2 separate regions of the Homo sapiens genome follow, and region 1 is linked to region 2. The links come from fine-mapping of genetic effects on gene expression. A gene starts in region 2. The other region holds a variant in brackets. All regions are shown on one strand. Distances are from middle to middle.

Region 1 (5,374 bases), 42 kb after region 2:
CTTTTTCTATTGATTGGAATATTTTCTGAAGGAATGGTACCAGTTCCTGCTTGTACCTCTGGTAGAATTCGGCTGTGAATCCGTCTGGTCCTGGACTTTTTCTGGTTGGTAGGCTATTAATTATTGCCTCAATTTCAGAGTCTGTTATTGGTCTATTCAGGGATTCAACTTCCTCCTGGTTTAGTCTTGGGTGGGTGTATGTGTCCAGGAATTTATCCATTTCTTCTAGATTTTCTAGTTTATTTGCGTAGAGGTGTTTATAGTATTCTCTGATGGTAGTTTGTATTTCTGTGGGATGGGTAGTGATATCTCCTTTATCATTTTTTATTGCGTCTATTTGATTCTTCTTTCTTTTCTTCTTTATTAGTCTTGCTAGCAGTCTATCAATTTCGTTGATCTTTTCAAAAAACCAGCTCCTGGATTCATTGATTTTTTGAAGGGTTTTTTGTGTCTCTATTTCCTTCAGTTCTGCTCTGATCTTAGTTATTTCTTGCCTTCTGCTAGCTTTTGAATGTGTTTGCTCTTGCTTCTCCAGTTCTTTTAATTGTGAATGTTAGGGTGTCAATTTTAGATCTTTCCTGCTTTCTCTTGTGGGCATTTAGTGCTATAAATTTCCCTCTACACACTGCTTTAAATGTATCCCAGAGATTCTGGTAATGCCTGTGTCTAGAATGTTATTTCCCAGATTTTATTCTACAATTTTTATAGCTTAAGTCTTACATTTAAGTTTTAATTCCTCTTGAGTTGGTTTTTGTATATGGTGAAAGAAATGGATCCTGTTTCAGTCTTCTGCATATGGCTAGCCAATTATTCCTGCATGATTTACTGAATAGGGGTTCCTTTCCTCATTGCTGTTTTTCTCAACTTTGTTGAAGATGAGATGGTTGTAAGTGTGCCACTTTATTTCTGGGATCCCTATCCTGTTCCATTCGTCTAAGTGCCTGTTTTGTATCAGTACCATATGGTTTTGTAAATGTAGTAGAGTTTGAAGTCGGGTAGTGTGATACCTCTGGCTTTGTTCGTTTTGCTTTTTTTCTAATTCTGAGAAAAATGACATTAGTAGTTTGATAGTAATAGCATTGAATCTGCAAATTGCTTTGGGCAGTATGGTCATTTTAATGATATTGATTCTTCCCATTCATGAGGATGGAATGTCTTTCCATTTGTTTGTGTCATCTCTGATATCTTTGAGCAATGTTTTGTAATTTTCCTTGTAGAGATCTTTCACCTCCCTGGTTAGCTGTATCCCTATAGGCATTTTCTTCATTTTGTGGCAATTGTGAATGGGATTGCATTCTTCACTGGGCTTTCAGCTTGGATGTTATTGATGTCTAGAAATACTACTGATTATTGTATCCTGAAACTTTGCTGAAGTAGTTTGTCAGATCTAGGAGCCTTTGGGCAGAGACTACGGAGTTTCCTTGGTTTAAAATTATATCATTTGCGAAGAGAGATAGTTTGACTTCCTCTCTTCCTATTTGGATGCTTTTATTTACTTCTCTTGCCTGATTGCTCTGGCGAGGACTTCCAGTGCTATGTTGAATAGCAGTGGTGGGAGAGGGCATTCTTGTCTCATTGCAATTCTCAAGGGGAATGCTTTCAGCTTATGCCGAGACTACATGTTGAAAAATGTCCTTGAGAGCTTGACTTTGTAACACGTGGCAGTACCTTCTCTCGGTCTCTGCCATCCAGGGAACAGGAATTTTGGGGTTCATATCAGTTAGCCCTAAACATTATCTCGAGCAGTTAAAAACTTTTGCAAGCTCAAAATTGGCTGTCCTAGGCTCCTTCTGAGAAGAGGAGTGGAAACTGCCCAGTGCTATAGCTCGGCAGCTAAGGTTTTGCCGTATTATAATGGCTGCCCGGATTCAATTCCTGGCTTAGGGAATGAGTCCTTTCTGATTGATATCTGGGTAAGATTTACCATTTTTTAATTCTCTTCTCCTCCAAGAACTGTCTTGAATTTTCCTTTCTCTGAGCCAGAAATATTGGTCATTTGGCCTGGCTAAAGTTGGGTAATAAGAAATTTAAAAGAACTTTTTAAAAAGAGCATTATGGTTAAAAGTCAGCTTAATTAAAAGCGGATATTCAAGCTCTAATAGCCTGGACTTCTTGAGGAAAAACAGAGGAGGTGCCACAGACCCTGTTTTGGGAAAAAACCTCCTCTGTTTTCTTTGTAAAACCCAAGGAATTGAAAGCAGATAGATCCCTTTCCAAATCTAAGGTTCTGTTCTGTTTTGCATTGCATTATCTGACGTTTTTTACTTTTTGAGGTATCAGAAATTACTTCACATTATAAGAGAGCTTTGCTGTGTAATAACAAGGTAGGAAATATACTTTTATGGATGGCTAATGGCAGTCATGAGGCAATATGTGGCTCTTTGCATGTTTGGATTAGAAAAGCATGCTCCTGGCCACCTGGAAGGTATGGAGATATTCCCCCACTGAGAGATAAGGGTCCCATGGGAGATGGGCTAATT[C/G]CCTCTTTTTGGGATCCAGGATCTGGTATAAAAATGGGACCTTAATTTTGGGGAATCTGTTTTTGCCTTTCAGCTGTGCCTGCTTAATAGGCCCTACAAACTGCATCTTTTAAAAGAAACTTAAGAAACTGGCAAATGAAAAATCTTAACAACTACTGGTTATTCTTCTGTCTGTGTATTTATATGTGTTGTGTGTGTGATGTTTATGAAAGAGCTTTGATTAATTGGCTTAAAAATAGTGCTTAAATATTTTATCAGAAAAATAAAAAGCATAATGCCTTTTAGTTCACATTACTTTAGTAATTTTGGGGAAATAAAAACAGTTTTACAAGCAAGGTGTGTAAGGAAAGTGAAATGTGTTTTTGGTAAAAGATTAAAAGAAGGCATGAGAATGTGGATTTTTTTTAGAAGGTTAAAGGATTGTTTTAAGTTAGGTAGGAAAAAGCTGAAGATTTGAGCAAGTTGTGGAAGGTTTGTGAAAAATTAATCTTGTAAAAGAAATTCTGTGTGTGAACATATTGGCTAACATTAAAGGGTATTCAGTTTTTCTGTAAATTGAACATTGGAATAAAAGCACAACAGGCTTTTCATAAAGCACTCATCTGCTCTTTAACAAAAATTTTTCAAGGGTTTATAAGAATCTTACTTTATGATGAGACTTTAAAATTGGATAGATTTGTGTATAAGGTTTTATTAAGAATTGGGTTTAACATCAATAGTGCATTAATGGAAAGGGTGAAATGTGGCTTTCTCTCTTGAACAGGATTTTCATGTTTTATTAAAAAATAATGAAAGATTTTTGTTTGCCTTTTAAATAAACTACAGGAAAAGAGGGGAAAGAAAAGAGACATTGTTTGGAAAGCTAGGTCTTCCCTCTTCATGAGTAAGGGGTTTTGCCTTTTAAAAATTTTTTAAGTTATTATTTTGGCAAAATGAATGACTTATGGTCACCTGGGATTCTATTTTGTGATATCTAGTGTTTTAAACCTTTGATATTTGACAAGCTTCCCAAAATCAAATTATAAAATATGTCTTTTTCTGACCTAATTAATCTTTTAGATATTAGGTCACCTAAAGTCCAAAAGTGACTTTTGGCTTATTTGGTATAAAAGTCATACAGGAAGCATTGTCAAATATGAAATGGTGTTTGGCCTTCTTTGGGCTGTGTTTGTATAAATATGTTATTGGCATGTATTCCAAAATTATGGAAGCTCCTATAATTCTGATATAACTTAGTGTGTGTTATCAATAGTTATAATTGCTATGTAAAATTGTTGTATACCACAGAGGTAATCAAAATTTTTTTGTCCATTGTGGCTTTAATAGTGGCTGTCCTAAAATTTTGTCATCCACAGACAATTGTTATCTTGTTTTAATACTCTTCAGAAGGTGGTTTTATAATCACCTATAGAACCCTAACAAGTGTTATTAAATGCAGGTTTTCTGATAACTTTGGAGAGTGTGACATTCAGATAGAGGAAAAACTTTCAGGACTCATGGACAGCTGAAATGTTCATGAATATCAAACAGGACAGGAGCTAACTGCATGTATTGCGCTAATAGAAGTTTGAAGTAATCTTGGCTGTTTGCTTAAAATGTTGCTGATCCTTTGTTTTGTTTTCCAGAGTCAAGGAAACTTTTGAGCTATTTAAAGCTTTTAACAATTAAGTAAAGTATACACCTATGAACACAATTTGGAGCATATGGGGAAACTGGTTATTTTACCAAGGCTTTGACGAGAATAGGGTGCTTTCCTTTAAGGAAAAAAACTTGACTTATAGAGCCAATAAAAGCCCCTTGGGAAAACTGGCCTCATAGGTTGTCTATACAGTCCCTGTACAGGGTTCCTGACCCGTGGTAAGTAAAGCATGTCACTTTCTCACAGGCCCAGGTGCCCCCAGTTATCTTAGGACCTCAAGAGAAGAGGAATTTACCCAACTCGTAAGTATTTGAGAGTATAAACCCACAGCTGGGCTTGGCTTTAAAAAAAAAAAAAGTCTTCAGGGCTCACGCCTATAATCCCAGCACTTTTGGAGGCAGAGGCGGAGGCGGGTAGATCACGGGGTCAGGAGTTCAAGACCTGCCTGGCCAAGATGGTGAAACCCCATCTCTACTAAAAATACAAAAAATTAGCTGGGTGTGGTGGCAGGCACCTGTAATCCCAGCTACTTGGGAGGCTGAGGCGGAGAATTGCTTGAACCCGGGAGGGGAGGTTGCAGTGAGCCAAGATCATGCCACTGCACTCCAGCCTGGGTGACAGAGCGAGACTCTGTCAAAAAAAAATGGAAAAAAAGTCTTATCTGAGATTCTTTCGATGGAACAGAGTTCCATCAAAGCTAATTTAAAAATAATTATTCTTGCTGCACTTTATATGAATGATCAGGCCAAGTATAAGAAAGTAAATTGGTCTTACCATGATTTGTTTTTAATAAAAATGGGAGACTGGAGATAGAAAAACTCTTTCGAACACTGTGGTACACATGTTAATAGATTCTAGTCTCATCAGTTGTTCTGGGACTTTTTTCTTCAATTTAGACTAACCCTGCTTATTCCTGTGAACAAACCAGTGACCTCTGACTGCTATTCAGAAGAAAGAAGAGGGATGGGTGATGTAAAAATCTGGATCTGTATTCTAATTCTGGGCACATATTGGGATGGGCTAGCAACCCCATATCAACTTGGTTCCAACAATTGTCCAGTTCATGGAAAGCCTTTTCTAATTTAATTTACTAGAGATAATTTTACTTATTTTGCTTTCCTGTTGTTGAATATATTGCTGTTATAGTCTTTGTGTAGGAATGCAGGACAAGCTTACTGAATGTTTCCCTAAACTGAACACTTATTAATCTTCCAGATATCACCTTTTGTTGAAACTCAAGAGTTATGAATGGCCT
Region 2 (5,372 bases):
GCTGGATGCAGTGGCTCCCTGCTTTCCTCTCCAGCACCTCTTCGGGGACCTGGACCTGACCCCCACTGAGCCTGTTGCCAGGTGGTCTTGGTTGCTGAAGTCCCTTCCAGCTGGCCAAGGGTGAGAAGGCTTGGCCTTGGTCTGGCTGCCCTGTCCCTCTGCCCCACTCAACTCATCTGCTGTTTGTCTGGGCTTCTCTTTCCCCTCCTTCCAATATCTCTTTTGTCTCCTTGGCCTGTGGTAGGAAATGTTGCCCTGTTCTCCCGAGCCTACTTGGCCTTGGACTTGGGATGGCTCTTGTCCCAAGCCCAGTTCCCGTTTCCCGACTCAACTGCAGCCTGTTTCTTCTGCTTTACCAAGAGCAGGTTGGAGGGGTTGATGCACTGTACCCTGATGTGGCCGTCTTCCCCACAGCTATAGCAGAATGTGTGGCGTTTCCGTTTTCTTGAGCCTCGAGAGCCAGCCCTTGCCACACCACCCCTTCGGTGTTGGCCTCTGCCCCTCCGGCGCCGGTAGCCCTGGGAAGGCCTCGCATCAAAACTGTTGCCAGAGGCAGGGAGAGGTACTGCCCCAACCCCAGTGATCCTGGCAGGTGGCCTTGGGGCTACTTCCAGCCCCTCCAGACTCTCCCTATCTGGACCTAAAGTGGCCTCCCATTCCTCCTCCTCACGCAGGAGCTTCACCAGGGCCAGGAAACCAGGAGGCTTCCTTCGCTGTTTCATCAGCTTAAGCTTATCTCGGAGTTTGTCAGGAAGGGTGGCCCCACTTAAGACTCGTTTCAGGCGAGTCTGATTCACGTTTCTACGTGATACCACATTGTTTTCTACAGCTCTTTGGAGCAGGGGTTCCAAACGTAACACAAAGCTAGATACTTTCTCTCCTGCCTCCTGATAGGCTTTACACAACTTCACCTGGGCAATTTTATGGCTCTCCACAGGTCCGAACACCTGCTGCAAGGCAGCCAGGCACTCCTCCACAGTTATGGAAGCATTGCTGGCCCGGAGCCCACTGACCACCTGGAGAGCAGGGCCCCGTAAGCATTCCATCAGCCTCCGCCTCTTTTCCCCCTCGGGCACCTGCCACATCTGTAGCATCTCAGTGGTGTGCTCAAGCCAGGCATCAAAGGCCAGTGCACCTGGGATGGATATGGTGTTCCCAGAAAACACTCTTAGTTCTCGGTACAACATTTGTTCTAGCAGAGGCTGCACTGCTGCCCCCAGAGTCTGGGCCCAGGTCCAGAACTCTGGTGATATAGTCACTCTTGGAGCCGAACAATTGGTGTCCGACCCGAGGACTCGGTTCATATCTGACACGGTCCGCCTCTCCTCCTCTAAGAAGCGGTTCAGTCTGTTGAGAAATTCCCCATCTGAGTTACGGGGTTTTACAATCACTTCCCAGGGCCCCCCCTTTCCTGGTATTTCCCTTGGGAGCAAAGCATAGTCGATATCTTGTGCCAGCTCCAGTAGAATCGCCTGGGCGTTCTCCTCCCTCCTAAACATCCTGCCAATCACCCTGTATCTGCCCAGGTGCCTGCAAGCCTCCTGGAGTGTCTCCTCAAACTCATCCTCGCCACAGTCCTCGGGGATCCCCAGGATGAGCATGCACCTCCGGGTGTTCAGGTGTTCCCCCCGACACCAGTCCTGTAACAAGGTCAACGGCATGTCCTCGAATCTCTGCGGATACTAATTTGGGGGGAGTGATCAGGGCGTGAGGCACATATCTGGATCAACTCCTAGGGTGATCGCAGAAGGCCCAGGTCTCCACAGCCTGTGAATGCGAGCAGGGCGAGAGCGAGGTTAATGCCCACCTCTCCGCACGCCCACATCCACGCCCACCCCCACCCCCACCCCCAGCCGCCCTCCTCCCCGGGCGGCGCCTCTGCAGCCAGGCCCCGCCCCTGCCCAGCCCCCCACCCCCACCCCCCGTGGGGTCTCTGCGGGCCTCAGCCCCCTCCCCGCGCTGCCCCAGGACCCTGGACCCCTGCCCTGCAGGCTGCTTCAGTTCTGATAGGGCGGACAGGCGAGGGGCGGCGGAGTCTCCCGGGGCCCAGCGTCTCCCTCCCCAGGTGGGTCTGTTACCTTCTCCCAGGGCAAGGTCCCTTCTGGTCGGGGTCCCCAGAGGGCTCTCCGGGGGCTATGCGCGGCGGCGGCGGCGGCGGCGGACGGGGGTCGGGCACCCCTGGCTCCCAGCGCGGACGTTCGCTCAGACTGTGGCTCTCCCTCGCTCGCGCAGCACGTGGGCCAGTGCGCCGGCGCCTGCTCGCCGCGGCTCTCTGCAGTGCGGACACGGGGCGGGGGCGCGGCGGCGGTGCAGCGCGGACCCCTCCGCGTCGTCCGGGAGACCGCAGGGCCATTGGCGCGGACGGGTCACGAGGTCGGGCTCTCGCCGCCGCCCCTGGGGGCCCCAGGTCCCCGGGTGACGTCACCTGCTCCTCTCCCCTAGCCCCCCCGCCACGGGGGCCCCCGGGCCCCCGGGCACACAAGCGCCCGCCCACCCCCATCCCCACTGCGGTGGCCAAAGGTCTGTGGCGGCCAGTCCCCGTGCCTTTGGCTCTCACCACAGCGGTTCCTGGTCCCGGCTCCTGCCCCTCCCGCACGTGCCACGGAGGTGCCAGCGGGGCGAGGGGTCTGCACCCCGGCGTGCCCACCAGAGGGCCAGGGAGTGGTCTGAGGTGCGCCAGGCAGCTCTGCATTATGGCCAGGGTCAGGGAGCCGGGTTCTGGGGCCTGTTCACCTGCTCTTGTCCTCCCCCTCCCCGTCCAGGACTGGTCCTCTGGCTGGCGAGGCCAGGGGCACCTGGTGCGGGTGCCATTCCGTGCAGGAGATGCCCCAGGCACTCATGCAGGTCACGCACACCACCCCAAGGAGGGTCAGCCATCTCCCCGCTGTCCATCCCGCTGCTGGGACCTGAGGCCCTCCGGCCAAAGCGCTTCGCTGCCCAGGTGCCAGTGGACAGGTTTACCGGGACCTTTCCGGTTTTGTGCGCTGCAAATCTAGTGACTTGGGAAACCACTTCCAGGACTTGGAGCCCAATCCCTTGGGCCTGCCCTTCCTTGGCAGCCGTGCGCCGTGGGTTCTATTGTATCCGTTTGATCCCAGGGCAGCAGCCAAATGAAGAAGGGAGTGACTGTCCCTCAGGCAGTGGGCCCAGGTGTTCTGTGGGTCCTGCCTGCTCTGCCAGCCGCATGCTCAACTCCTATTCACACAGCTTCAGCTCCTCTCCAAACACAACGAAAAGGGGCTTGTGGTTGATTTTCAGGCCAGGTTCACCCATCCAGCCAAGTCTGGGAGGCCACCTTGCAGTGAGTGGGGCACAAAACTGTCCACTGACTTCCTGCCCCACCCTGAGTTCTGCTCGTCAGCCTGGCACTTGTCAGGGACCAAGAAGAAATGGCCCCAAGGGCTTTTTCCTGGTCAGACAGAATTCCTGAAACATCTTTACAGGAGTTATTTCATTTGCTCCTCACCAGAACTCTGAAGCAGGTATTAACATTATCCTGATTTGACTCATGAGGCTCAGAGAGATTAAGAGACATTTTCAAGGTCACACACCGTATTGAAGGTAGAATTGAGACTGGATTCTAAATTAGTGCCCATCAGTCTTTGGGTAGAATTGGGACTATTTCTCCCCTGGTTGCTTCATGCCTATTAGAATTTATTTCTCTCATTTTTGTCCATTCACAGTCCCTTGCTTTGTCACTCCAAGGGCTCAACCAGCTTCAAACTGAACCTTCATCTGCCCAACTTGCAGGGGTGGAAACAGAGGTTCAGAGAAGGGACACTACTGGCCCAAGGTCACACAGTGAGTAAATGACAAAGCTTGAGATGTCAAGGGGAGATGCCAAGTATTCATGCCAAGGCAGAGGGGCGTGTCTGGAATGTCTCCGGAAAGAAGCCTGTGAAGTTCCCAGACAGACGCAGTGATCTGTGGATGTTCTGGGCATTGGGAAAAAAGGATTTGGAAACACTGGTATCAAGACAATAGATGTGAATATGTCCAATTTGAAAAGTTTTAGAACTCCTTTATATTGGAGTTAACCTTTGCCCTTGAAACCAGTGGAAATGTCTTAATTACTTTTGCTTCCCCATCTCCTTGCATGGTAGATAACACAGCAGCACCAAAGTTGGGGAACTGATGGATAAACATTATTACTTGTAAAGTGAAAAACATAATACAGCATGAAGGAAGCAACCTCCACCGGGGTGGCCTTGCCCTGGCTTAGACCAGTAGTGACTATCGGGGTCACAAAAGGGGCAGATTCATGGGCCCCACCTCTGCAATCTGATCTGCTGAGTCTGAAACAGGCCTGGGAATTTTTTAAAGAGTTTCTGGTAATTAAATACTTTATAAAATACATTCTGCAATATTTAACATACAAAACGTACTTAAAAAGTACATCCAGTACTCCTGAATGTAGTAACTGGATGAAGACATAAAACACTGCCAGTGAGGGTAAGCGCCTGCAGATTCCTTCCCTGTTGTCTCCCACTCTTGTCCTCCATGTGCATTTCTTCGTGCTTTTTCTGCAAATGACTATATCCCTAAAAAATTGTCTTTGTCTCTTTTACACTTGGCAGAAATGATATCATACTATTCATAGTCATCACTGTATTAACTAATTATTGTTTGTGAGAATCACCATTTTGATATAAGCAAATTTTATTCCTCAATTTTCACTTCTGTATAGTATTCCATTGTGTGTGTGTGTGTACCAAAATTTATCAATTTTCCCATTGACAGATATTTAAGTTGTTTCCCATTTTTACTATCAGAAACAATGCTGCTTTAAATATTCTTGGAGAGTTCCTCTAAGTTATGTACCTAGCCATGGCATTGCTGAATCAAAGACTATCTTTAGTATTCAGAGACATTGCCAAATTGTCTTCTGGGTTGCTGTACAAATTTATGTTTCCATCAAGCTCCATATCATCACTAACATTTCATATTGTGTGACTTAAATGTTGTTAATCCTGAGGAATGTCAATTGTTATTATGCTTTTATGTAGAATTTCTATGATTATGAATTAGATTTAATACCTTGGTTGGGGGGGCATTTTTTATTCCTCTTGATTGAAATTCCTATTTTTGTCTCAATTCTCAACTGGGGTGCTTCTCTTTTTTAATTCTTTCATAGGAGTTATTTATTTACTTTGGATATTTCTTCCCATTAAGTTACTATTCCTGCACAACCAGCTACCCAAAACATACTGGCTTAAAACAACCATTTTATTCTGCTCACAATTTTGTAAGTGAGAAATTGAGAGAAGGTTTAGCTGGGCAGTTCACTCATGGGATCTCTCATGTGGTTGCATTGAGATATGAGTTGAGAATCAAGTCTAAAGACTCAACAGGGCTGGGCACCCAAGATGGTT

The links. PIP is the estimated chance that this variant, and not a neighbour inherited with it, causes the effect.
Region 1: its variant is the best candidate, but not a certain one, in a credible set for the expression of PNMA3 in whole blood (TOPMed, PIP 0.67).

Annotation. Positions count from the first base shown.
Region 1 is chrX:153,010,846-153,016,219 of GRCh38, reverse strand. No RefSeq gene overlaps it. Among named protein-coding and RNA genes, the nearest start is that of PNMA5, 19 kb to the right of the region's middle. The variant C/G (reference allele first, on the strand shown) is at 2,481.
Region 2 is chrX:153,053,345-153,058,716 of GRCh38, reverse strand. PNMA3 (PNMA family member 3) reads right to left here and starts at 2,247. Exons shown (of 2, transcript NM_013364.6): 1 at 2,079-2,247; 2 at 1-1,767. The coding sequence starts at 1,661. The coding sequence ends at 270.